Homo sapiens: one gene and its partners. The protein of the gene in region 1 interacts with the protein of each later gene in a pairwise test. Each region holds a gene or a part of one and is shown on either strand. Other genes may lie near its edges. The genes, in order: TENM1, PTPN12, PICALM and NUBP1.

Region 1 (6,855 bases):
GTACAATGAAACTTCTTTCCTGTATAAGTTACTTAATCTCAGGTATGTCTTTATTGGCAGCGTGAGAATAGACTAATACAAATATTATTGTACTTACATTCTTATTATGAGGGTACTTAGAAACAAAACTGACATGTCATATTTTCCATTATGCATTCTTCTCACAGAATGCAACCTATAGATTAAAAATATATTTAAAAAATCAAGGCCAGAACATCTAAATATTGTTCTCTAGGAGTGAAATAGTCTAGATACACGGTAACAGTCACACAGTATATACTTGTTGATTAGCAAATTGTTCACACATCTTTGAACATTTCTTAGCTTCTTTAAGTCTCAATTTCTTTGCCTATTCCCAATGCTGGCACAGTTCCTGGAATATAGTAGATGTTCCATAATCACTTGCTGAATTGAATTTATGTAATTACATTAGTTTTGGGAATAAACATAAAAAGGTGTATGAGTGCATGTGTGTGTGTGTGTCTTTGTTAACAAAAAGGTATATATCTTAAAATTCCTAGCAAATTATTTTAATAATATACACTTGGCAACTGGACAACTGTCATATAGAGATTGCATGCTCCATTACAATCTGTTATATTTACATTGGCTATTCTGAAACTAGCAATTTAGTGTGTCTTCTTCCTGATATTCATATTTGAAATAGAAATTCTTGGTCCCATGAGCAAAACTACTTGAAAATTCTGCAATTTCATGTTGCTTAAATGTGTCTGGGGAATCTCTAAAGTTGAATAAATGCCTTAGGAAATCCACCTACAATATCAGGATATAGGCGTCTAGAAGCAGCAAATCAGTTCTTAGGAAACAGAGAAAAGTGACAGAGCCCTCTGTACTTCGGAATTAGGACTGGAAACAATGTTTTGAAGGAACTAAAGGGAGACAGGTGCAGACCAAATGAATTAAGGACACCAGGGAGCCACAGGAGACCAGTAAGGAAATGAGAGGGAAGAATGCTAGAGAAAATACAGCATAAAGAGGAGGTGGTAGAGAATTTCTAAAAAAAAATGATTACAGGGACTGCTGAATTGCCAGGAGAGAAACAAACTCGGCCTCCTTTCATGAAATCCCTAAGTATCAACTCTCCCTTTCTGCCAGTATCTTCAAGAAGAGTAACAAAGGAACAGCAAGAATGAGAGTGAGATAATCATGCTTTTAAATTCATATTCCATTTCCTTGGTCATTAGGGTTTGTCCATGTCCCATTTGGCCAGAATTCCCTTTTTGTTATGGGGAGTTCTTTTCTTAATCGCTGGTTACGGAAACACCCAGAGTATTTCCAGTCATTGGAGAAGTGACTGGCCAGATGTTTCTTTTTTTTCTCCTTCCAGAACTCTTTGGTAAGGATTGAGGAGGTATCCTGAAAGTCTTCCTTCCACAGTTCAGGGTTTGGGCAGTTCATAATGTGGAATCTTTATTTAGGATACTTAAATCTATATATGTTTATACAAATAACTTGTTTTTGTTTTGTAGGAGGGTAGTGGGTTTTAGGAAGGTTTCGTTTACATATTTGTGGCAAGACACAGGTTTTATACCCATCCTTTCACTACTGCTTTCTCAACAGCCCAACAGAGAGCCGGTGATAGAAGCAGTTGCTATGCCCCTACAGAGCCTGGTTGTCATCTTTTGTTTCTTTGTTGGCAGGGCGGTGGGGCGGGACGGGAGTGGGAGGGTGTTGAGCCGCAGGGATCCAAATGATTCCTGCCTGAAGCTGAAGACCTTGTTGGGAAGGGACGATGGGAATAAACGTGCTCTTGATTCCCTGATTCTTCCCCCTAGAGTGTTCAGCTCTTTGTATTTCCTCCCCTTGGTGGTGTGATGGTCTTACAATGCTCCCTCTTTGCAAATACCTATATCAAAAGCTGGGAAAATGGGAACACACGGTTCAGAGAACTCCCCCTGGCGTCACTCTGTACTACCTCTCTTTCTGAAACTGAATCTGGTCCCCCTGCTCAGGAGCACAGAGACCAGCCCGGAAGCCGACCTTGGGCAGCTGCCGCCACCCAGGGAAGGGAACAGTTGGAAGCTTTGGTGTTCGCCCACCGCGCCAAGAGGAACTCTTCCCGGTAACTAGCACCAGCCACGACTCCAAGCCTGCCTTATTGTAACCTCTAGCGGGTTCCCAACTCGGCAATAGCTTCTCGCTCTCCTGTCCCTGTTCTTGCGGAGGAAAATTTAAAACGTGCGTGCACATATACGCATTCACACACGCCCTTCTTTCTTTACTTAAAAAAAAAAAAATCAGTAAACGTCCTTCGCCCAAAGAATGTTCGACTCTTCACGCTCTCTTTTCTTTACCTAGAGGTCAGCAGTCCCTTGGGAGCACACGCGGTGCTCCCTAGCTGCTCTGCGCGCCCCCTACCTGCCTACGGCTGGGGTGGCACCGCGGGGCAGGAGGCCTGGGAATCCGCTAGACTCCTATTTCTCCAGTTTGTGCAGCTCCCCTGGCTCGGCACTTGGTATCTCCCACGGTCTTGCTCTCTGTGGGAAGCCGGAAAGAAGACTGCTGTGGGCGTCGCCGCCACCCCTCCCGGAACCAGAGCCTGCTCTAGCGTGCATCCAAGCCTCCTACTTCAGACTCACATCTGGCCCAGTCGGACAGATGTTAGCCGCTGGAGAGTGCCTCCATGCGAAGCGCCCCAAGTCCCGAGCATGCCCAGTCGGACTACTAAGGCTTCTGACGCGAGTTTCTGGGCGTGCAGATTCCGCTTCTCCGCTTTTTCGAGGAAGCTGAGGAGGGTTGGGAGGGAGGGAGGGATCCAGGGCTTGGGGCAGCGCGCTGGGTTCGCCCGAGTACGTGCCCTGGTGCCAGGCTGGGTGAGGGGCGGAGCCGTTTAGGGAGCCCAGGAACCTGGGCGGCCAGGCAGGGCAGGATCCCTTAGCGCTCCCCTCTTCCCCCAACCACCTTCAGGTGGACGTCGTTACTGCTGATCTGATGCGCCGCCAGTAGGCTGCATGTGGCCGGCCGGCCTTGGCGCTCTGGGGTCACACTGTCAGCAGGACGCAGTCGGCGGTGCACTCTCACCGACAGACGCACGAGAGCTTGTGGGTCGCTTATGCACCGCATTCACGGGCTTTTGGCTTTTCTGGAAGGCGGGGGAGAGGAGAATAAGAAAAGGAAACCAAACAATTTCTCTCCCCCCGCCCTTTTTTTTTTTTTTTTGCCAAAGTTATACTGGCAAAAGACTTCGCATTCTAAGTCAGTCCTGAGGCTTTGAACATAGAAGCAGTGATTGTGCTCCTGTGTGTGCGCTCGTGTGCGCGCGCGTGTGTGTGCACGCGATGTTTGTGTATGTCATGACTAGGTAACACTGTCCCAGGCTGATCCTGGGGTTGACAAATACTCATCCGAACCCCCCACCCCACCCCTCACCCTCAGGAGAAAGTAATTAAAAAAAAAAAAAAAAAAAAAACATCGAGTGAGTCACCTGGCCAGGCATCTATCCACTGTAGTAGGAAATCTAAATTTTGTTGATCCATATTTCCTTCCTCTGCTTCCATATCCAGCTTTCTCCTTCCCCTCTCCACCCTATAACACCCTGATCTTTCTCATTGCGACTTCCCTTCCTCTGCCCGATACTTGCTCCTTAAGCCCTTCTCCTCTTTCTCCTCCTCCTCCTCTCCCTCTCCTCCTCCCCCCACCTCCCTCCACCTCCCATCTCAGCTGCGGCTAAAACCTGGAGTCTTGGGGAAAAGGAGAAAAAAAAAAAAACCTCGGCTGTGAAGCTGTCAAACCGGGCATGCTCAGTAGACAGGGCAGGTTTTTTGGTCTCGAGTAGCGGAGAAACATTTTTTGCACCACCGCGACCAGCCTTAGAGCGCGGCGGCGGCGGCCACGGCAACATCAGCCCAGCCATCAGCCGAGCAGACGCCCAGCACCCGGGAGCGCGGCGAGCTTCGGCTCAGCCCGGAGTTCACCTCCGAGTGCCCCGGGGGCTGAGCTCACCCCTTCTGCTCTCTCACACACGAACACTCTCTTTCACTCACACACACACACGTATTCACACTCTCTCGCACACACATAGGACCCTGGGCGCAAGCACCCTTCTGGCAGCGGTCGTCCGCTGGTGCAATAGTAGCTAGGTTCGGTTCCTGCCTCCGGCGGCCGCCGGTTTAGAGCACCGCTGCCAGCAGCCGGAGGAGAGCAATGCGGGGGCCCGAGCGGCAGCTCGAACAGTAATGTGGATTTACAGTCGTTTCCCGCAGGAGTCGGCCGAGACGCCCTAAGTCCCGGGCACTGGCAGCGCCCGGCGGAGCCGAGCACCTGGCGAGGGGGCGGGGGAACAGCACCTGGGGACGCCGCCGAAACTTGCGCTTGGAATAGGTAGGTGCGTTTCTCCTGGCTCCCACCCCATTCCTTCTCGCTCCCGCCCGCCACCCCCAACCTTCTACCCCAAGGACTACAGGCGAACTTCGCCCCGAGGCTGCAGGCGGCGGATGGCGGCTCCTGGCTGTTAGCGGCCGGTTGAGTCCGCTCTGGGACTCCTGCCCGAGGTGGCAGAGCCTCCGCATCCTTCTTCTCCCGGTCTCCGCCGGCCATGGGGCTCTGGACCATCTGGGGCAGAAGGGAGGTCGGCCTTGTTCGCAGTTCAAGCTTCCAGCGGGCCCTGGGGACGCTGCCCTTCGAGGGCTCGCTGGGCTTCCCAGGCGGCACTTTTACCAACCAACTCCTTCAGTTCTGAGAGGGAGCCTCCTCGCCTCGGCTCTCGCGCAGAGCCCAGTCACTCTAACAAGTGGACCTGGGTGCTTGGGGTGAGGATGGGAGGCTCGGTCTAAAAAGAAAGAAAGGGGCGCTTCTCTGGCATCCCTCCCACCCTGGAGCGTTCGCCTGGGGCTCTGCCACTGGGGTCCAGGTCCTGCTGTCTCCGCAGAGAATATGCCCAAGGGCTAGGACGCACTTTAGTACCTGTTTGCTTCTGAATTTCTATTTGAGCCTCACTCAGGGAGCCCGGGTTCCCGGGGGAACTGCAGGACCTCCTAACCTACGCCGCCGTCGAGGGCCCCACCCGATGCGTCCTCCCTATACCTTTGTCAATCTTTGTCAAAAGAGATAGTCATTACAACCCAGGCGGTGCTCCAGGAGCCGTCGGTGTTGACTTTAACCATGCGCTCCAATGTGCGGGTTTGTGTGTTTCCGCATTTCATCCAGAGACTTGGTCCCCGAGATTCAGCAACGGCCAGCATATCTGCGAGCGCCAAGCACCCGCTAGGCAGGCTTGGGGAAATGTAACCTCACTTTCTTCCACTCCATAACAGGAGGATTGCCAATTTAGTTTCAGGATGCTTTGCCTAGAGGCGGAGAAGGGGAGATTGTTAGCGCTACTTGGTGAGTGGATGTGTTTGCAGTCAGGAGTGTATTTAAACATTTCAGTGAACCCGATGCAGTCAGTTGTTTACAATTGCGGAGACAGAGGATCTCACTCCACTAGTAGATGTTTCCACGTCTGTGTCGCCACTGGGAGAGTAGGGGCGGGGGCGGGGGCTGGTTTGCAGCTCGTACTCGCCGTCGGCAGCTTCGGGTTGAGCAGATCTGCATCACTGCTACTGGCGATATGCTAATAGGGGTAGAAAAGCTCTACATCTCCAATATGAAGCAATTGGTCAGTAAACGTCCTGAACTTAACCGTTGTTTTCCTGGGATACCAACCTGGAGGTGTTTTTGAGGTGGCCCAAAGAAATACAAAGAGAAGTTCTCAGTGCTACAGAAAGGAAATTAGTAGCCATTTGGTTTTAAAGACCAAAAGGAAACGAAACATCCCAGTGCACTCTAATAGGTACTGTTAGATTAGCGTTTAATTGATCGCGTTTGTGACGAGTAAGTGTCGCAGACAGCTTCCTTGAATTTTAGACTCTTGTTCTATGATTATAATTAACAAGCCAGGTAACAATGTACTGTGAGAATCAATTGCTACTCTTAACGTGTTTGAGGAGAACATGGCAAATGTCTGCTCTATTATATTTTTTGGCTGAAATAGCCCAGTTCATCTTCCTAGTCCGAAGTCTTCTGATCTGGAGCAGTAGATACTCCAGTGTTACCAAGAAAGGGAAGAGTCTAAGAGGGAAAGGCTTAAAAAACAAAATTAATGAAAAGGCGATCCACACCTTTAACTTCTGCTCCATGATTACCCAGCATCTGCTTGCTTGCTCACCCCCGCTCCTTGCTCTTCATATCTGCAACGTGGGGAAAAATGAATTTTCATAAGGCATAGTAAGACCCTCAAAGTACATAACTGGAGAAACAGAATCCCAATTTTGCCATTTTAGTTCAAGTTCATAACACTATTTTGTGATGCATTAAATAATTTACTATGGCAAAGTTGGGGTTTTTAAGAGTAATTAAAAGCTTTCAGGTATGACAAAATAATGTTGAAAACTTTTCATGATTAAAGAAAGTCGAAATATGCATTTAAAAAGGGATCAGGTAATTCCTAAAATAAATCCATGCTCTAAATATTATTTAAAAGTTTTCAGGTTGTTCCCCAGAATGTTTCTGAAAAACAGGTGTTTCTATAAAACAACTCTATGAAGAAATGTTAACATTTTCATAATAAAACTAGTAGAGTCCAGTCCTGAGAACAATGTCAGCTATACATAGCAGAAAAAAACCCCACAAATATTTTTGCATACATGAAGTAGTATTTTCCATTAGGTTTAGGTTCCAATTATGAATTAGGGACAGTCATGTCATTTGACAAAATATACAGTGAGGCTAAAGGAAAGAATGCTTTGTAGAATCATTGTGCTGTAAAGGTGATTAAGATTTCAAATATTCAAACGTTTAGGTGTATTAAAATAAAATTGTATTATACATAACTATCATCACATTCAAAGGCCTAAT
Region 2 (7,027 bases), on another chromosome or scaffold:
AGTAGGTAACTTGATTCCCAAATTCACTTCTCTTATTTGTACATATTGTTTGGGTCTATCTGTTAGGAGACTTTATCTGATAGGAGACTTCATTTTAAGGTTTTTAAAAAAATTTTTTTTTTAGTGTTTTTTGTTTTGAGACAGGGTCTCACTGTGTCACCCAGACTGGAATGCAGCGACGTGATCGCAGCTCACTATATAGCCTTGGCCTCACTGCTGGGCTTAGTGATCCACCTACCTCAGCCTCCCAAGTAGCTGAGAGCACAGGCTTACGCCTCAATGTCCAGCTAGTTTTTGTATTTTTTTGTAGAGACAGGGTTCTGCTATATTGTTCAGGCTGGTCTTGAACCCCTAGGCTAAAGCGATCCGTCCACCTCAGCCTCTCAAACTACTGGCATTACAGGTGTGAGCCACTGCCTAACTTTTTCAAGACTATTTTTTTTAGAGCAGTTTTAGGTTTACAGCAAAATTGAGAGGAAGGTACAGAGATTTCTTATATACACCCTGTCCCCACACATGTAGCCCTCATTATCAACATTCCCTACCAGAGCAGTCTCTTTGTTACAATTCACAAACCTACATTGACAAGTCATTATCACCAAGAGTTCACATTTTACATTAGGGTTCATTCTTGGTGCTATACATTCTGTGGGTTTGAAGAAATATATGATGACGTGTATCCACCATTGTGGTATCATACAGAATAGTGTCATTGCTCTAAAAGTCCTGTGCTCCACCTATTCATTCATCTCACCCCCTTCCCAACCCTAGGTAGTCATTATTTTTACTGTCTCCATAGTTTTGCCTTTTTCAGAAGTCATATAGTTTGTTTTTGTTTGTTTGTTTGTTTGTTTTGAGACGGAGTCTTGCTCTGTCGCCCAGGCTGGAGTGCGGTGGCACTATCTCAGCTCACTATAACCTCTGCCTCCTGGGTTCAAGCAATTCTACTGCCTCAACCTCCTGAGTAGCTGGGATTACAGGTGCGCGCCACCACACACAGCTAAGTTTTGTATTTTCGTAGAGATGGGGTTTTACCATGTTGGCCAGGCTGGTCTCGAACTCCTGACCTCAAGTGATCCACCTGCCTCAGCCTCCTGAAGTGCTGGAATTACAGGCATGAGCCACTGCTCCCAGCTCAGAAGTCATATAGTTTGAATCATACAGTATGTAGCCTTTTCAGATTGGCTTATTTCACTTAGTAATGTGCATTTAGGGTTCATCCATGTCTTTTCATGGCTTACTAGCTCTTTTTTTCCTTTTATTATTTTTAATTGACACATAGTATCTATACTTATTAATGGGGTACATGTGATTTTGGTACATGTATGTGTAATTTAAAATGTGGAGTGACTAAATCAGGATAATTAGCATGTCTATCACTTCAAACATTTCAAATGTTTGATGACTTTTAGAATTTTTTTATAATTATCAGGTACATCTGGAATTTTAAAGATTAATTTTATATTGTGGACTTTGATACAAGTATTTTATTTGTTTTGATGTGTCTTTTTGTTTTAACGTTTTCACTGACTTAGAAATGTTTCTCTTTATTTAGGAGGATGAACAAGCAAGAACAGACTACTTCATCAGGACACTCTTACTTGAATTTCAAAATGTAGGTACTTACCATTTATAGACTATCTGTAAGAATAGTTTTCAGGCTGGGTGCAGTGGCTCATGCCTGTAATCCCAACACTTTGGGAGGCTGAAGTGGGAGGGTGACTTGAGTCCAGGGGTTCAAGACTAGCCTGGGCAACATAGTGAGATCTTGTGTCTACAAAAAGAAAAAAGTTAGCCGGGCATGGTGGCATGTGCCCATAGTCCCACTCACTCAGAAGGCTGAGCCCGGGAGGTTGAGGCTGCAGTGAGCCATGATTGTGCCACTGCACTCCAGCCTGGGCAACAGAGGGAGACTCTCAAAAATGGTTTTGAGAATAGAGAATAGTTTTCAAAGAGAAGACATAGAGAGGGAGGGGAGCGTGGGCTGAAAAACCACCTATTGGGTAGTATGCTCACTCCTTTGGTAAGGATCATTTGTATTCCAGACCTCAGCATTATACAATACACCCATGTAAGCTGCACATGTACCCCTTAATCCAAAATAAAAGTTGAGGCCAGGTATGGTGGCTCACTCCTGTAATCCCCAACACTTTGGGTGGCTGAGGTGGGTTGGTCACTTGAGGCCAGGAGTTCAAGACCAGCCTGGCCAACACGGCGAAGCCCCATCTCTACTAAAAAATACTAAAATTAGCTGGGCATGGTGGTGCACACCTATAATCCCAGCTACTCAGGAGGCTGAGGCACTTGAATTGCTTGAGCCTGGGAGACAGAGGTTGCAATAAGCCGAGATGGTGCCACTGCACTCTAGCCTGGGCAACAGAGCAAGACTCTGTCTCAAAAAATAAAATAAAAAATAAAATAAATGTTTTAAAAATAGAAAATATAATACTACTACCTAAATGTTTTATTTGGTAAAATGGGTTTGCTAGAAAATTATTTTGCTTTATATCTGCAAAATGCAAATAATATATATAATATATATTATTATTTTGCTTTATATCTGCTTTATAGTTTTTTGTAAGTAAAAAAAGTAACAGCAATTTTTATTTTTAAAGCATGTGAAGTTAGTTTTTGTCTTTGCAAACTAATCAACTTTTAGCTACTAAAAAAATAAAACAAGCTATATAAATAGTATACTATGTTATTTAACATAATTAATGAAATTTGGTAATTTTTTAGTTACGAAGATGAAATGAGAGTGTAATATTTAGTCTTGACATTTATGCTTATCACATTACATAAAAAGTAATATTAATTATAACATACCCTAAATTTGTTAAATTTGGAATAGTTATACCTTCTTTGCAGCAAATATTTTTATTCTATTGCAGTAAGCAGGTTATTGCATTGTTTATATAATTATTACCCTGTTTTACTGGTTTACAATTTGTTAAAGAAAAGTCACTATCAAAGCTAAGTCTTCATTTAGATATATATTGTTTTTAGTTGAAACCCCCCACAGCGCCCCGACTTTTTTTTTTTTTTTTTTGGCAACAGGGTCTCACTATATATTGCCCAGGCTGGACTCAAACTCCTGAGCTCAAGCAGTCCTCCCATCTCCACCTTCCTAGTATCTGAGACTATAGGGATGAGCCACCAAACCCAGCTAAATTTTTTATAGTTTATAGAGATGAAGTCTTGCCATGTTGCTCAGGCTGCTGTCAAATTCCTGGCCTTGAGTGATCTTGCCTTTTGCATTGGCCACCCAAAGTGTTGGGATTACAGATGTGAGCCACTGAATCTGGACTGGTTGCTAATTTTTTAATCTACGGTAATAATAATAAGTACCTTAATGAATTTCTGTGGTAGATCAGGCATCTTAATTCTGCTAACTGCATCATATCCAGATACTGTTACGTCTGTTGCACATAGATGAAGATACAGAAGCTTTAAGAAGTTAAATAGCTTACCTGAAGTTATTTAGGAAATGGCCAAAGTAGGAATTTGAGTATGGTTTGCTTAGATTCCGAGTATTGCTCTTTCTGTTAAACACCTGCAATAACCATTCTCAAAACATTTGACATCAGTACTCCTTTACATTCTTCAAAGTTATTGAGGATCCCAAAGTTTTTGTTTCTGGGGGTTGTATCTTTCAGTATATACTATATTTGAAATTAAAACTGAGAAATTTTTAAAAAACATGAATACATAAGCATATATTGTATTGGCTGTTAAAGAATAAGGCACGTAACATTTTAGTATTATTCTGAGAATTATTTAAAGCTCATAGACTCCCTCAAAAGGGTTGAGGGGAGGGGGTACCCAGACCGTATATTGAGAACCACTAATCTGTAAGAAGACTAGTGAGTTTGGCATTGGACAAATTCATCTCTCCATTCTTTTTCAGTTTAATGTTCTGTTAGTCTTCTGATTACAATGAATACTACTCTAACCTACTCTAACATGGTGCTTACGGTATATTGCTCATCCATTTAATAGTGTAGATTAGTTAAATAGTATATATAGTGTTATGTTTACAGTACATGCTCTGGAAGTAGAACTGCCTGGTTTAGAGCCCACACTTGTCACTTCTTAGGAAAGTTTGGGCAAGTTATTTTATCTGTATATCTCAGTTATAAAATGAGGATGGTATTAACAGTACTTTCCTCATGGAAATTAAATTGTTACATGTGAAGCCCTTAGGTATTTGGCATGTGTTTAACAGTCAATAAGTGTTGGCTATTATTTATTTGGGTTTTTTTAAAAGCAGTGCTAAATGCCACACAAATTTCTTAGAAATGGCAGTTTAAATGAGCTGTGCAACTTTAAACTTTGCAAAGTATTTTCATAATTGTTGACTTTCTGTTTTTCTTGAAGGAATCTCGTAGGCTGTATCAGTTTCATTATGTGAACTGGCCAGACCATGATGTTCCTTCATCATTTGATTCTATTCTGGACATGATAAGCTTAATGAGGAAATATCAAGAACATGAAGATGTTCCTATTTGTATTCATTGCAGGTACAAAAGAATTTCCCAAGTTTATAAATACATTATTTAAGTTTGATGTTACACAAGGTTTTATTTCTGCATTAATATGTTAGTAATCTTGAATTTCTCCTAGCCTTGATACAATGTTTGGGACTAGGGCCTTGTAAGTTGATGTGGTCTCATTTGGTTGACAGACCGTTTAGAGTATTGTTGCATTAAAACACAGGATCATCTATTTGAAAATAGTATTCACATGGTGGGAAGCTATAGAACATACTCTTTTTACTGTTCACTGATTAGAGCATATAATCTCAGATCCTCATCATACTCTACTTTCTAAAGTCAGTATGGTAGTATTTTCTTTTAATCAATTTCCCTGAAACAATGACCAAGCAATTTTCATTCCTGATAAACACTGACATGAGATTTTTAAAAACAGGATATTGCTCTGATGCCCAGGTTGGAGTGCAGTGGCACAATCATAGCTTACTGTAAACTCAAACTCCTGGCCTGACGTGATCCTTCTGCCTCAGCTTCCCAAGTAGCTAGGACTACAGGCATGTGCTACCACACTGAACTAATTTTTTTTAATTAAAAAAAATTTTTTTTAAGAGACCAAGTCTTGCTCTGTTGCCCAGGCTGATCCGAACTCCTGTCCTCAAGTGATTCTCCCACTTTGCTCTCCCAGAGTCTTGGGCTTACAGGCGTGAGCCACTACGCCTGGCAACATGACTTTCTTTTTTTAATATATGTAAGATGTACATACGTAGGTCTTATTGATCTAAGATATCATCAATTCTAAGACACACCATTATTATATATATTAACAGTAAAAAAATCACTGCCAATTATAAGGGGACAATGTCATTTGTAAGAAGCCATTGGTGGTAAGATACATACCAATCTCAGAGCTGTTACATTGAGATGAAAAAGTGTGTTTTAGTTTGATGAAAAACTAAATGCTGTTTTTATTCTTGGGGAACATCAGTTTCCACGTTTGCACCACTTCCTGTCATATCATGAAATTTTATAATTTATAGCTACTGAAAAATTTAAAGCCGGAAGCAAGCATTCTTGTAGTAAAGTAATAAAAACTATTGATACACATTTACTAGACATTTTTATTATGTTTTATAGTAGATTACTTCATTATAAGGATTACATAAAATTCAATGATTACTGACCTAGTTAAGCTACCTCTGAATGTGAAAGGACAAGTATAGGTGCACCTACTTTAAATTGCACAATATAAATCTTTTCATTTATTCAAATAATATTTGAAGTTCAGTTAGGTTTTGCAAAATTACTCGTTTGGATGTGTTAAGAAATCATGTAAACTCTTCCTTTGACTTTGGGGGAATGAACATGAGATTTGTTTATTCTTGGGGGGCAGTTAATTTTGTATTCTAGAAGGGGGGTTAATGTATAATATATTTTAGCTAAGAGAAATCAGTTTAAGATAACCAACTTTTCTTAATCTAACATTTTGGCTTATTTCTGTCATCTGGTCATTCTCATACAAATAATACAAAGCTAAATATACATAATACATATGCACATATATGTATATGTATACATTATATGTAATACATAAAACAAAGCTAAATTTGTATTATGGATTTAGGAGTGTAATGGAAAATACCCCTTTAAGAGGAAAAGCACAAAACTGAATTAGTCAAGAAAATAATAAATGTTTGCAATAAGTGTCATGACCGGGTATAGTGGCTCAGTGCTTTGGGAGGCCGAGGCAGGATGATTGCTTGAGCCCAGAACTTTGAGGCTGCAGTAGACACCAATTACACTACTGCACTCCAGCCTGGGTGACATAGTAGACCCTATCTTTTAAAAAAAAAAAAAGAATATAGGTATCATTATAATATGGGTGATACAGGATATTTTGAAACCTAATTTTTGGAATTTCATTATATAGGTATGGGTTTCTACATAGTAGAAGCTACTTGAATCCTTAGACAGTTTTTCTACTCTGAATTTTTAGTTTACATTAGATTCTTCTAAAGGCCTTACAGTCATAGTACTTACTTCATAAGACTGCTATCAATTTATTCCTCTAAGGGACTTGTTATCTGCATTCACATTTGTTATAAAAAGTAAATGAGATTTTTCAAACTTAAGAGATTTATTTTTTATTATTTACATAGTTAAAATATTTTTTCAGTGGAGTTGAAGCATTGAAGATAGTTTTCTTATTCACTTGGTTTGACCGTAATGCTCATAATTAACGAAGTAAAAGGGCTACTTTTTATTCATGGGCCAGGAAAGTAACTTGCTGGTGGAGATGTGGGAATCAGTTAACAACTTGGTTCATTAAAACTATTTTTTTCTGTGGTTAATTCAGTGGTTAGTTGACCATTTAATTAAGTAGGATTGACCAGTTAAAAATAAACAATATGTTTAATTATAGAATTAAAAGATAAAGAAATTGCTTTCACTTTGACTTCTTATAAGTTAGTTAAAATAATTTCCTGTTCAATCATAAATCCATTTGTATAGGAAGGCTTTTCATCAAAAACTAAATT
Region 3 (7,027 bases), on another chromosome or scaffold:
TGAATAAACAAGGAGAAAAGGCAAAGACCTCCTTTAGAAAACCATAGCGTCATAAAGTTCCTTACAAATTCTATTTCGTCTGTTTGTAACTTTAAGGCTTTGATGAACTAGGTGGACTTCTCAAACCAACAGTGGCCTCTCAGAACCAGAACCTTCCTGTTGCCAAACTCCCACCTAGCAAGTTAGTATCTGATGACTTGGATTCATCTTTAGCCAACCTTGTGGGCAGTAAGTAGTCTTTGGATACGTTAATCTTCTTTTATGTTGTTTTATTAAACTGCGTCTCGTGTTATAAAATGCTTTTTTGTTTTTCTCCTTTCCTAGATCTTGGCATCGGAAATGGAACCACTAAGAAGTGAGTGTTTAATATACACATTGTTTTCTCCGTGTGTTATTTAGTGTTTTCTCCATGTGTTATTTGGAGGGTTGATTTGGCTTTCCTCTCAAAAATATGTGTAGAGATATCAAGTCTGCATCTTTTTTTTTTTTTTTTGACACGGAGTCTCGCTCTGTTGCTCAGGCTGGAGTACAGTGGCGCAATCTCGGCCCACTGCAAGCTCCGCCTCCCGGATTCACGCCGTTCTTCTGCCTCAGCCTCTCAAGTAGCTGGACTACAGGCACCCACCACCATGCCTGGCTAATTTTTTTGTATTTTTAGTAGAGACGGGGTTTCGCCGTGTTAGCCAGGTTGGTCTCAATCTCCTGACCTCAAGTGATTTGTCCACCTTGGCCTCCCAAAGTGCTGGGATTACAGGCATGAGCCACCACGCCCAGCCTCAAGTCTCTATCTTACTCTGTTCTATATAAGTATATAGCTAAGGAAACTTTATAATTAGAGACATTTAATATTCTCACTTATGTTTATTTAAAGTGATGTAAATTGGAGTCAACCAGGTGAAAAGAAGTTAACTGGGGGATCTAACTGGCAACCAAAGGTTGCACCAACAACCGCTTGGAATGCTGCAACAATGGTGAGTTGAAAAAGCTCCTGATAGACTAACAGTTGAATAATTTAGTTAAATATGTAACATGAAAATGTTTTTAAAGTGATAGACATAAATAGAAGGATTGTTACTGAGTTTAGAAGTATAAGTAATTGTATTTCTTTCAAAGGAAGCTGGTTGCCTATATTTACCAGATACATTTTAGTGGCTAACAAGTATTTAAGGGTTACTTTGTGCCAGACATATTCCAGTAAATAATAATGTTTTATTTTTTATAATCCTCCTATTAATGTGTTAGTCACTATTATTATCCCTATTTTACAGATGAGGAAGTGGAGGCTCAGAGTTATTAAGCAATGTGCTCAGGATTACAGAGATCTTAAATGATGAGTTGAATTTTTATAACCTAGGCAGCCTAACTATAGAACATATGTCCTTAATCACTACTCTATATTACTGACCTCAAATTTTTTATTTATTTTTCTAAAATACAAAATCTTGTGATTTCATTATTGGTAAAGAAACTATACTTGCTTCGGTTTTGTCATATAATTTATATATATGACAATGTGTTTGGCAATTATATATATGTCATATAACTTACACAGTTGATACTCATTATTTGTGGCAGTTAAGTACTTAAGTCACCCCAAACACTGAATTAGTGAACACTGAACCCTTGCTGGGGGAAATATATGCATATATGTATATGTCACATAGACGGTCCTTTTAGAAAACCTCATTCTAGTATATTCTATTTATTTTATGAAAGAGGAAATAAAGTTCAGAAGTGTTAAGTGACTTGCTTAAGGCTGTCGCACTAACTGGTGCCAGAGTTGGAATTTTAGCCCTGTCCAGCTGGCCCCAGAGTCAGAGTTTCTTGCAGTATGATGGACTCCCCATCCTCCTTCTCTATCCTCTGGTCTGGTATGAGAGCTGAACCAAGGCAGAGTGTCCTTTGTTCCATCTCAGCTGGAGGTGAACTGTATTGGATGAGTCAAATTTTTGCCCCTCTGCAAATGAGCATGAATGGCCTTGAAAGCACCAGGAGTGTTGATTTTTGGTGTCACAAAGTTTATCATGTAGGTGAATTTGCAAATATGGAATCCATGAATAATGAGGATTAACTGTATTTTCTAATTAAATAATTAGCATCTAGTAATGAAGAGGTTTTAGTATGTTTTAATTACTGTAAGGTATGGTAGACCCAGAATAGCTCTGTGGCTATTCTCCTGTCCTTGGCCAGTTTCTATCTTACCAACCAACAAATTTTCGTCAGTCAAAGAAAACTCCTTGTGGAAAAGTTTGAAGCATTCTTTCTCCAGACAGTAGGCTAGTAGCTGTGTTTTGATTACACGGGCTACACGTTACTGACAGCTGTCCTGTTACTGTTAGAGGCTGCGGTTGTCCTTATAGCCACTTCCAGAGCACTGCCCTGTTTTCCGTGGGTTAATGATATGTTAAAATTAGTAGGACTGAGCTAAAAATAGTATGTTTGTTAAAATTTGTGCATTTTATTATATAGCTTAAGACTTCATAAATGGAAAGTAATATTGAGATTTAGCTACCTTTTTAAGGCAGTGTTTTTTTGTTGTTGTTTTTGTTTTCTTTCAGACAGTGTTCATTGCCATCACTAATTTTATTATTTTGTATTTTTTTTTTTTTTGTGACGGAGTCTTGCTCTTTTGCCCAGGCTACATTGCAGTGGCGCGACCTCAGCTCACTGCAACCTCTGCCTCCCAGGTTCAAGTGATTCTCCTGCCTTAGCCTCCCGAGTAGCTGGGATTACAGGTGCCCACCACCAGGTCCAGCTAATTTTTAAATTTTTAGTAGAGACTGGGTTTTATTATGTTGGCCAGGCTGGTCTTGAACTGCTGACCTCAAGTGATCCACCCGCCTCAGCCTCCCAGAGTGCTGGGATTACAGGCCTGAGCTACCACGCCCAGCCTATCATCACTGATTTTAAAACTTTGCATTTAAGTAGTTTAGATTTTTATACACACAAATACACAATCTTAAACATGTAAATGTTGCTGTCTTGAGGGAATTGGAGCATGTATCACCCCACTTCTAAAGATTTTTTTTTTCCCTAAGTGCAAAGCAGTTGAAAAGCAGATTTAAGTTGAAATCCATCTCTTTGACTCTGAATCCAGTCTTCTTCCCACTATAACACACCTCACTGACTAGGGTATGGTAGGAGTTTAGAGTAGTGGATTTTATGGACTCGTGTGAATTATGACATTGATGATGTATGAGGAATGATATAAATACCAGTGCTGCTATTAAAATATAATGAATATTTTCTTATATTAAGTTAGTATTAATCTATATGAAGTATTAGGAGTTCATAGATAGCACTTAAGACTGACTACTAAAATGTAGTAGGTATTTAGTCATGTAGAATTTGTATTTAAGTTGATAAGGTAACAGTCTTTATCTTGCTGTGTTATATATGGTAATGTGTATCATCTCCTAAGGATTTTGCTTAAATATTTATATGTATTTTATGGAGTTTTCTTTTTAATGGCTAATGTTTGGGGCTGATAATGTGATTCACTACTTAAGATAAACTGCTGCTTTTGACATTTCTTTACATTTCTAACCTTTTTATTAATCCTTAAACACTGTCAAGGTTTTTCAGTGTTTTTTAAATTTAACACAAATTCATTGGAATTTTATTAAAATATATATTATACTACAAATTCTTTTAATTAGTGCTTGCTTTTTTTCTGTGGTAGACATCTGATGCAACCCTGTTTATGCAATGCCCAAAATTTTGCACTGTTGACACTGTTGATAGAATTGATGTTTTAATGGTACTTGTAATCAATAAACTATTTTTTATATAAAGAGATGAGGCCAAAGACTACAATTCCCTTGTCAACCTTGATAGTGTTTTAGTATAGATGTTCTTTCATTAGATACTGGAAATACAAGGGATTTTAGGTAGTTAGTGAATGTACATGTGAACTAAAATGCTCTCTGTGTATTTTCTGTTGTGTAAGTACTTGTTCTAATCCAGTGTTATTGCATTATGTAATTGTTCTCCCTGGGAAAAACAGAATGGCATGCATTTTCCACAATACGTAAGTGACCAAAAACGAGCCTTTTTGCAATAAATTGGCATGCTATTAACCACTGCTGTAGCAGAATCTCATAACCTTTCAGCTATTACTTGTTTTCACATTCAGATTTTCAATGTGCCAGAAATTCTTCCTAGCATCTACTGATTTCATGGGTGTGTTGCAGAATTGATTCTGATGGTGGCATGGGAAATACCGATTTTTTTTCTTGCTTAATATTCCGCCATTTGCTGCCAGATGGCTGGGTGTCTGTGTGTGTATCTGTGCTGCCACTATGCACTTGATGACTTCTGAATGAAGGGAAATGTTGATTGTGGTAATGTTTAAAATAACAACTGCATGAAATCTTACAGGCTTCTGCTCTTCTTGGCAGTTTGTCTACTGCTCTTGCAGATCTTGGTTTTAAGTAGGGAGAGACCAATAAGTCCTACACGCTCACCCGAATACTAAACTTATAACTATTCACTTTAGTGTTATTTTTTTAAAGTTATATTTCATTTAATTTCTCCATGCATATGTTCAAATTGCCATATAATTTCAGTTATTTTATGTTTTAGCAGTGTTATTGGTCTTTCACCTTTATTCAATTTCAGTTTTCATTATGAGAAACACACACAGGAAATGTTGTTAAGACAGCAACTATATCTAAAATGATTCTGTTCTCAAATTGTATGTTTACAGATAATCAAAGTAGTAGGAAGAGGGGAACTTAAACATCATAGTGATAGATGGTTCTTTTAAACATGAAAGCATAAACTGACCTAATTGATTGTTCCTCTTAAATAATTTTTGGAATAAATTAGAAAGCTAACGTACATACTCTATATAAGAACTATGGCTCATAGAAATAGTCATACTCAATAGTAGTTTGAAACCTTTGGAGTTTTTTGAAAAGAGTGAGTAAGATCCTTAGAAACTAACTTTTTGGAAGATCAGGTTATTGATTGATTTGAGATCTTTACATTTTTTTCTTTGAATGCTAAAGCAATCAGGTACCTAAGTAAGAAAACATTCAATAATACTTTTTCTGGGTAGACATTTTTTAATGATAGTGATAGGCTTTAAATTTTAGAACTATTTAGAACTATTTAAGATACTTTTTTAAATCTAAAGATTTTTAAAGCTGTAAAAAGCATGATGAAATCTTAGATCACTGCTGTATCTAAGTTTAAGTGGTATAGTTATCCTTCTAATAAGTCTGCTTTTCTGCTAATTTCAAAACACTTTTTTTCACTGACCATTAATCGACAGTTCTTAATGATCACAAGTGTCACTTACTCACAGCTGTCTTAGCAATTCTTTTTAGTGGAACTACAGCTACTAATTCCTTGAACTCAGTTGACACACATGAGTTATACTTTCTTGTTCATTTTTCCTTTCACTATGTTAGGCACCCCCTGTAATGGCCTATCCTGCTACTACACCAACAGGCATGATAGGATATGGAATTGTAAGTATTTTCCTAGGTACAGCTTTTGGAAAAAATATTGATTCATATATAACATGTTTTTATTACAATTTAACCTAAAAAAGAATTTAGTGCTCCTCATACTCCTAGCCCTAGTGCCTAATGCAGTAGAACCATAGCATTGGTTTCATAAGTATGTCTAGAATAATCATTATACAAGAGATCTTATGCATTAATGTTCATAGTATTACTTGGTTTATTTTTCTCCTCGTAACTTTGCTGGGCCTTTTATATTTCAAACATTAATGTTAATTCTAAGCCTTTGTTGCTGTGACCATATATTAAATACCAGTGAGGTCTTATAACCTGATATTGTAGGGCATGGGAGGGATTAACACTTGAATTGTATAGAGATAAATTTAGTCTGATAAAGGCTAGAGAAATTTTCCTGTGACAATGATTATTACAGTACAAAAACAGTCTTTTAACCTTTCAAAATGCCACAATGTGCATTTTAGATTGCCCTTAGTTTCCCAACTCTCAGTATATAGAGACTCAATTAGAAAAGAAATGGTGCTAGTAGCTTCAACCCACTGGTATGTATTTGAGGAACTGTTCCTGGTAGAAGGCAGTACCGTGTCCCTTGGTATTGCTACTGTGCCTGCTATGTTACTTCTTTATGTATATGATATGGAAGTAACTCCTTTTATACATGTGGAGAAGTTTCACAGCTTTTTTTCATAGTCATTGCATTAAAATGTCTGCTGAGGCTGGGTGTGGTGGCTTACGCCTGTAATCCCAGCACTTTGGGAGGCCAAGGTGGGTGGATCACCTGAGGTTGGGAGTTCAAGACCAGCCTGACCAATATGGTGAAACTCCGTCTCTACTAAAAATACAAAAATTAGCTGGGTATGGTGGCGCACACCTGTAATTCCAGCTACTTGGGAGGCTGAGGCAGGAGAATGGCTTGAACCCAGGAGGCAGAGGTCACAGTGAGTTGAGATCATGCCACTGCACTCCAGTCTGGGCAACGGAGCAAGACTCCATCTCAAAAAAAAAAAAAAAAAAAAAAGTCTGCTGAGAAACTCAGGCCATAAACTTAAAATGAAGCTCTAAATGCAAATAGTAGTCTGCTTGAAACAATAAATAGAACTTCTTGAAAGGAAAGATTTTAGAGCATTGCATTTTAACCAAAACAGTATTCTGTTTGTGCATTATTTTTACACTAGGTATTGTCACTTACTAGGTTAATTTTATACCCTGTAGTGGTAATTTTTAAAGAAACATATTTGGTTGAGATTGTATTTTCAGTTACTCAAGAAAGAGTTAACCTCTGGTTTGTAGTTTAAGCTCTTTCTTGATTCTTATATGAAATAAAATGGAAGAACTAGAGCAGGCTTATTCAGAGAATCAACTGTCTTCACTTGTGATCACTTGCATAATGGCAAAAGTACTTGATTTGTTATACAAATTTACTTTGAAATTTCTTAGCAGCGAAGACAGAGTCTTAAGTTTTCTTGATGTCTAAACCTGATAAATTTGGAAACTCTTAGTCTTAATCATTTTATCTGTTGTAATACAATAAAGTTTAC
Region 4 (7,027 bases), on another chromosome or scaffold:
CTTGAGCCCGCTTCACTCGTAATGAAGAACAAAGTAGAAAAGACCAGTGGGGTCTCAGGGACCTTCCTTCCAGCAGGGTCCCCAGCCAGCATTTCAGCGTGGCTAAATAATCAGGTGGTGTACAGAAAATGCAGGTTCCAGGGCCCTACAGAGAACTGATTCAGCAGCTTCCACATGGGCCCAGGAGTCTGCATTTTAAGAGATTAGCTTTTGAGTGAAAGGATCATGAATGCACATGGTTAAAAAAAGTACAGAATGCAAAAGGATATGGCATAAAAGGCCAAGTCCGAAAAGGGCTACTAGTGTTCTAGGTGTCTTTCCAGAAAGATTATGCGCATATAAATGTGCACACTTGCATGTGTGCGCACACACATACACACACTCTCATATACCTAAAATACGAATGGGAGCACATGACACACACATTCTGCCTGCTGCTTTGTCTGTGTATAATTTTATCTTCCAGGTCATCTGTGCTGGTGTCTATCAGTCTGCTAGTCTTTCCCCGCCATGTGGCCATTGTTCCAGTCCCCTCCTATGCACACCCAGGTTTCTCTAGGACCATGTTATCCCAGAGCCAGGTGGACAGGACACAAGGGGCTAGGGGTCAATGGGGGTGTTCTCGCCTCCAGTCTGCCCTGCCAGCCCCCAGTCGTGGGTGGACCTGCCATCAGCTTGCTCTGCCCACTCCCCAGGCCTGAGCTGCTGGCGAAACAGGCAAGTGACTGCACTGCCCATGGCCGGTCACCAGCCTCAGGTGAACCCCAGGAGGGGTTCCTACCTAGCACTCATCATTTCCTCAACTTCACTACTGTGTCGCCCTGTGGGACAGGGAAGTCCAAGTCGGGGAAGAAGCCTGTGGGGAGGGGTTGGTGGGAGATGGGGAGCCCATATGGCCCAGTGAGTCAGGAAAATAGGGTCCAGAGGCAGGGAACATAAGGCCAATTCGCACTTGAGCCATAACAGGAAATGTCCTCTCCATAGGACGTATGCCGTAAATGACTTTGTAACTTTACTTCATCCTTTTCGTTTATATAGGGCGTACCTCAAGTAGAGGGTATTTAAACACAAAAACTCTGTAATGGGGCCTTTGAGCCCCTATTCTCAGGCCCGTTCTCCTCCCACACCGTGGAGTTGACTTTCATTTTCAATAAATCCCTTCCTTCCTTCCTTTCTTTGTGCGTTTTGTCCAATTTTTTGTTCCAGACACCAAGAACCTGGACATCCTCCGCCGTTAACGCTGGGCCCATGAGACCATGTGGAACTCGCTAGGGAGGCCCCTGAGTGCACGTTCGCTGGGCCAGACCTGGGAGGTTGGGGATCCCAGAATAGTCATGCTGGGGCTACTTTCTGTCCCTGACTTTCACCCAGGTCTCCCTTCCCCAGAGGGCTCCCCAGCCCCCAACACACATATATGCTCTAGTGTTTTCCCTTCCTAACTGCATTTCCCCCTGGGCTCCCACCTCTCCAAGAACGGGCAGCATTATCAGAACAGCTGGTGTGAGCACAGCCCTGTTCCAAGAGATCCCAGGCATCCTCTCACCCCACCCTGGCAGATCCCTCTCACTAGGCACCACTGTCACCTGCATTTTACACACGGGGCCATCGAGGCTGAGAGCGGAAATGACTAGCCCAAGTCCCACAGCTAGTGGTGGCGGAGCAGGGCTCTGAGGCCAGCCCTTCCTGTGATCCTCAGCACACCGGGACCAGGACCCATAGCACCAGAGCGCTGGCATCTGTAACTCTTTGCCACCATGTCCCCAGAGGAGACTGAAGTGCTGTCCTCATGCCTTCCTGTCTGTTCCTAGGAAGGTGGGTTTTCCCCCACTCTGTCCCCAGTGACCTTGCCAGATGCGTGTCTGTCACTTGGCCCTCATGCTCCACCCTCTTGGGTGGGTGACAGTGTTAACCACCCCTTCCTTTCTGGCACTCCCTGGCCTTGCTATCTGTGGCTTCCCCTCAAGGTGAGCTTCTGCAATGTGCCATTTGACACACAGGACCATGCCCACTAGAAGGCACTTAATGTTCTCAGCTCAGAATGAGCCTCGCAGCTGTCACTGGTGGCTCCTCTGCTTTGAAATTAGCTCTTGTGAACCACCTGGAACTTTGTTTCTTTGTGAAAAGTGGCCCTGAAAGGAAAGACCAGGGCCAATGCCAGGGCTTGGTGTGAGGGAGGTGGGAAGATGGAGGTTGCTGGCTCTTTGGAAGAAAAGCCGTATCAGGATCTAATAGCCCCAAGGTCACTTCCTGATCTGTCAGACAATGGCAAGGGCAGGCCTGTGGCTGGGCCCGTGGACATATTTGGGTGGGTCAGCAAGCATGCCATTTTTAAATTTTTTTTTGAGACAGGTTCTTGCTCTGTCGCCCAGGCTGGAGTGCAGTGGTGTGATCATGGCTCACTGCAACCTCAACCTCCCTGGGCTCAAGTGATCCTGCTAACTCAGCCTCCTGAGTAGCTGGGACCACAGGCACATGCCACCACACTGGGTGAATTTTTTCCTTTTTTTTTTTTTTTTTTTTTTAAGAGATGAGGTATCTTCCTGTGTTACCCAGGCTAGAGCATGGTTGTGTGTGTGTGTGTGTGTGTATTTAATGGAGTTAGTTGCTATCATTTAGTATCAGGAGACTTTGGGTAAGGATATAGATTTCTAGCTCTTCATTAAACCTTGGAAAATGTGGCAATTGTGATGGCCATAAGGACACACCTCTTGGATCTCTGGCAGCAGCTGCCATGCTCCAAAATCCACCACCACGTTTGTGTTGAGGCAATGCCACTCCCAGGCTGCTCCTAGCTAGTGACTGAGACGAGCATGGCACTCGGGCAGGCACGCTTCTGGGAGATGCAGCCCCTCTGATGGGTAAGTGGGCTCAGGAATGCCCTGGTGGCTGTGCCCAGCTTTCCTCGACAGCAGCCAAGACACTCCAGCAGACAGATGCTCCAACAGACTGACATACTCCAGCAGACTGAGATGCTCCAACAGACTGACATACTCCAGCAGACAGATGCTCCAACAGACTGACATACTCCAGCAGACTGAGATGCTCCAACAGACTGACATACTCCAGCAGACTGAGATGCTCCAACAGACTGACATACTCCAGCAGACTGAGATGCTCCAACAGACTGACATACTCCAGCAGACTGAGATGCTCCAATAGACCTACTCCAGCAGACTGAGATGCTCCAATAGACTGACATACTCCAGCAGACTGAGATGCTCCAATAGACTGACATACTCCAGCAGACTGAGATGCTCCAATAGACTGACATACTCCAGCAGACTGAGATGCTCCAATAGACAAATACTCCAGCAGAATGAGATGCTCCAATAGACAAATACTCCAGCAGACTGAGATGCTCCAATAGACTGACATACTCCAGCAGACTGAGATGCTCCAACACACTGGCATACTCCAGCAGACTGAGATTCTCCAATAGACAAATACTCCAGCAGACTGAGATGCTCCAACAGACTGGCATACTCCAGCAGACTGAGATGCTCCAATAGACTGCCACACTCCAGCAGACTGAGATGCTCCAATAGACAAATACTCCAGCAGACTGAGATGCCAAAAAGCAAAGTACACTGAGGTGCTCCAGCAGGCTAAGATGCTCCCATGGGCTGAGATGCTCCAGTGGGCTGAGACGCTCCTTCGGGCTGGGATGCTCCCGTGGGCTGAGATACTCCTGTGGGCTGAGATGCTCCTTTGAGTTGGGATGCTCCCGTGGGCTGAGATACTCCTGTGGGCTGAGATACTCCCTTGGGCTGGGATGCTCCAGTGGGCTGAGATGCTCCTTTGGGCTGGGATGCTCCCATGGGCTGAGGTACTCCTGTGGGCTGAGATGCTCCTTTGAGTTGGGATGCTCCCGTGGCCTGAGATACTCCTGTGGGCTGAGATACTCCCTTGGGCTGGGATGCTCCCATGGGCTGAGATGCTCTTGAGGGCTGGGATGCTCCCTTGGGCTGAGATGCTTCCAGGGGCTGAGATACTCCTATGGGCCGTGATGCTCTTTCGGGCTGATATGTTCCTTCCCCCACTCCTTCATCGTGGGCTAACGCTCTCCCTTGTCATTTTCTCCCACAGATGTTTCCCCTGACAAACGTCCTGCCCACCAATCCCATCTCGGCAGAGCTGAACTGTGGCAGAGGTGCAGGCTGGCAGGAATGGATGTGCCCTGGGCTGCTGCAAGCTCCTGTCCCCAATCACATCCATTCATGCAGCCCAACTGCCTCCAGGGGCCTCAGAGGGCAGCTCTCATCACCACTTCCGGCCACTGCAAAAGCTGCCTGGTGAGTGTTTTATGATGCTGGGGAAGGTTGAGAAAGCAGCTGTACTTTTCTGCATGTTGTTGGGGAAATCACATGCCAGAGAAGTATTGTGGGATGTGGGAATAAGGGAAAAAGGATTTGGGGACACAGCCTCCTGGGCACATGGGGTCTCTGGCGTTCTCCCGGGCTGTTCCCATCTTCAGAGTGGCCCTCGCACCCTACCCCCCTACCACTTCCTCGAGGCAGCCATCCCCCAACACTGTCCTCCTGGCTCCCGCTTTCTGCACGGCCCCTTGGCAATCCTGTCCATGTCCTGTGGCTTCAAAACTCAACTGCACGGACATGAACCACCTTCTCCTGACGGACCCCAGAACCTGCTGACAACCTGAGCCCCCGAGCCCCTTAGCCGCAGCACCCCAGAGGGCCCGGCCTCCCTCTACCACCCCTGCTTCACTGTCTCTGAGGGACGGACCCTCCTCCAGGTGACTTGTACTGGCAGCAGGGACAACCTTGACCCTCAGATGCCGTCACTTTCTCTCTTGTGTGTGTCCCTTCCTTTCTACACCAACGCCAGAACCCAGGGCCTCATCCTGAACCCCTATCCCAGGGCAGCCACTCCTGAGCCTCCTGTTCCCAGGCACATGACACTGACAGTCGTTTCCCACAGGCTCCCATTCTCCCCATGCAGCCCTTCCCCAAGGCTCCCCACGTGGCCTCCGCCCTCCCCGCCTCCAGGCTCTCCACGGGCCCCGCCCTCTCCCCAAGCACGCGGCCCCCACCCTCTCCTGGCCAGGCCATACTTCACCCGCCCGGCCCCTCTCTCCTGTCCCGGCACAGACACCTCACACTGGCCTTGGTTCCCTGACAAATGGAGTGGAAGTTCCGAGGCATGGGTGCAGCCGGCACTCCTGGATCCCGGCCTCCCCTCCAGCCTTCTCTCTCTGTTCTCCCCTCAGACCTAAAGGCGAGTGCTGGACGCCCCGCAGGAGCCCCACTAAAGGGCCCCAGTAACGGAGGCCCGCCCGGCTCCGCGGTCCTGGGGGACAGCAGCCTCCTGGGGGAGCAGCTTCGAGTGTAGGCCCTGCCCAGCGCCCCGCGGCGAGTGGGCGCCCGGCGGGCGTGTGGGTGGAGACGTGAAACCCCGTCCCTCCTTCAGCCTCAGGGCCACTCAGGGAGTGGGCATCTCTTGGGATCCTGGGAGACCCACGTACTTAAGAAGAGCATTTTTTGGGAACTTGGCCCCTGCTCGCAGGCCAGTGATCCGCGTTCCGGTCTGTCCCGGTGCTGGAGACAAAGGGGCCTCATCTGTGCCGTGCTGGCTTCTCCGGGCACAGGAGGCCCGGCCCCTTCCTAAGGGATTTTCACCTCAGGCCGCCTTCCTCTGTAACCTGGACGCCATGTGCATCCCCTGGAGCCGCCCCTCTATCGGGTGCCCTCCTCAGTCCCCTGCCACCACCACCCTCACCAACCTCTACCCCATTCTTCCAGGCCTCACCCCTCTGCCTGAGGCCTGCTTGCTCCCGCTACCTGCCCGCAGGGGTCTCGGCCTCTCTCCCGGTGGCCTCTTGGGGTGCCAGCTGGAGGGTGGGTCTGGCTCCAGCGCCCCATTGACCCTCCTCCTTCCATTGCCCCTCTCTGTAGCCGCCCCCTGTTGTGCCCGACCCGTGCCTGTGGGGCTGACCGAGGAGTGAGGTGCCGCCCCACACTGGGGTCACCCACCTATGAGCGGATCCAGGGGCACTCTGCCGAGGAGAGGGACCTCCAAGTCCTGGCACATGAGCTCCGCGCCCCCGGTTGTGGGAGGGAATATCTGAGATTCTTTCTGCAAGGCAAATTCAAAGGGGAGGAAACATAATTTTTTTGCAGAATCACAAGGATGGACCACATTTTAAAGAAACTTAAAAAAAAAAAAAAGGCTTAGTTTGAATGTGGAACCCTTAACACCTAAAGAACTTTCCTTTAGTCAGCAGAAAGGGATTTTAATTGTGATTCCACTTCCCAAAATGACAGGGAAAGCAGAAATAGTTTGCAGAGCAGCCTTCCGATCGTTTCCTCATCCATGAGAGCAAGATCTTGCTCGCCTGGCAGCCCCACGCGCCCTCACCTTGCACTTAGGACAGATGAAGCCACTCATGTTCTCCACCACCCCGATGATGGGCAGCTTCACCTTGCGGCAGAAGTTGATTTCTTTCCGGACATCCTGGAGTGACACCTCCTACGAAGGTGAAAAGACCAGTGATTCCAGCATCAAAGTGCGAGAAAGGGAATGTCTGTGCAACCGAGGGGATGGCTGCAATGCAGTGGATCTGCGATCATAAAGCCTTAGAGGTTTCTGCCCTGATAGGGTTTGGCTCTGTGTCCCCATCCAAATCTCAGCTCGAACTGTAATCCCCATCATCCCTACATCCCTACAGGAACAGGCAGTTCCTGGTGGGAGGTGATTGGATCATGGGGGCAGTTTCCCCCATGCTGGTCTCGATAGTGAGTTTTCACGAGATCTGATGGTTTTGTAAGTGTTTGACAGTTCCTCCTACACACTCTCTCTCTCACTGCTGCCACTGTGTAACATGTGCCTGCTTTGCCTTCCACCATGATTGTTAAGTTTCCTGGGGCCTTCCCAGCCATGCAGAACTGTGAATCAATGAAACCTCTTTCCCTTATAGGTTACCCAGTCTCAGGCAGTTCTTTACAGCAGTGTGAAAATGAACTAATGTATGCCCTCTGCCAAATCCATATTTATTTAGTACCTACTAGTG

The links.
Region 2: the proteins of TENM1 (region 1) and PTPN12 interact in a two-hybrid assay, tested with the Homo sapiens proteins (one study listed by BioGRID).
Region 3: the proteins of TENM1 (region 1) and PICALM interact in a two-hybrid assay, tested with the Homo sapiens proteins (one study listed by BioGRID).
Region 4: the proteins of TENM1 (region 1) and NUBP1 interact in a two-hybrid assay, tested with the Homo sapiens proteins (one study listed by BioGRID).

What each region holds. Positions count from the first base shown.
Region 1 is NC_000023.11:125,201,290-125,208,144, reverse strand, and holds the start of TENM1 (teneurin-1 isoform 1 precursor), read left to right. Parts: upstream 1-3,832; 5' UTR 3,833-4,341; exon of another isoform or gene 4,342-4,345; intron 4,346-6,855. UniProt on the Homo sapiens protein: Involved in neural development, regulating the establishment of proper connectivity within the nervous system. May function as a cellular signal transducer.
Region 2 is NC_000007.14:77,596,287-77,603,313, forward strand, and holds part of PTPN12 (tyrosine-protein phosphatase non-receptor type 12), read left to right. Parts: intron 1-1,555; coding exon 1,556-1,615; intron 1,616-4,377; coding exon 4,378-4,520; intron 4,521-7,027. UniProt on the Homo sapiens protein: Dephosphorylates a range of proteins, and thereby regulates cellular signaling cascades. Dephosphorylates cellular tyrosine kinases, such as ERBB2 and PTK2B/PYK2, and thereby regulates signaling via ERBB2 and PTK2B/PYK2.
Region 3 is NC_000011.10:85,975,073-85,982,099, reverse strand, and holds part of PICALM (phosphatidylinositol-binding clathrin assembly protein), read left to right. Parts: intron 1-96; coding exon 97-228; intron 229-324; coding exon 325-355; intron 356-871; coding exon 872-971; intron 972-4,006; coding exon of another isoform or gene 4,007-4,030; intron 4,031-5,417; coding exon 5,418-5,477; intron 5,478-7,027. UniProt on the Homo sapiens protein: Cytoplasmic adapter protein that plays a critical role in clathrin-mediated endocytosis which is important in processes such as internalization of cell receptors, synaptic transmission or removal of apoptotic cells.
Region 4 is NC_000016.10:10,760,823-10,767,849, reverse strand, and holds part of NUBP1 (cytosolic Fe-S cluster assembly factor NUBP1), read right to left. Parts: intron 6,939-7,027; exon of another isoform or gene 6,487-6,938; coding exon 6,376-6,486; exon of another isoform or gene 6,282-6,375; intron 6,094-6,281; coding exon 5,991-6,093; coding exon of another isoform or gene 5,987-5,990; intron 5,334-5,986; exon of another isoform or gene 1-5,333. UniProt on the Homo sapiens protein: Component of the cytosolic iron-sulfur (Fe/S) protein assembly (CIA) machinery. Required for maturation of extramitochondrial Fe-S proteins.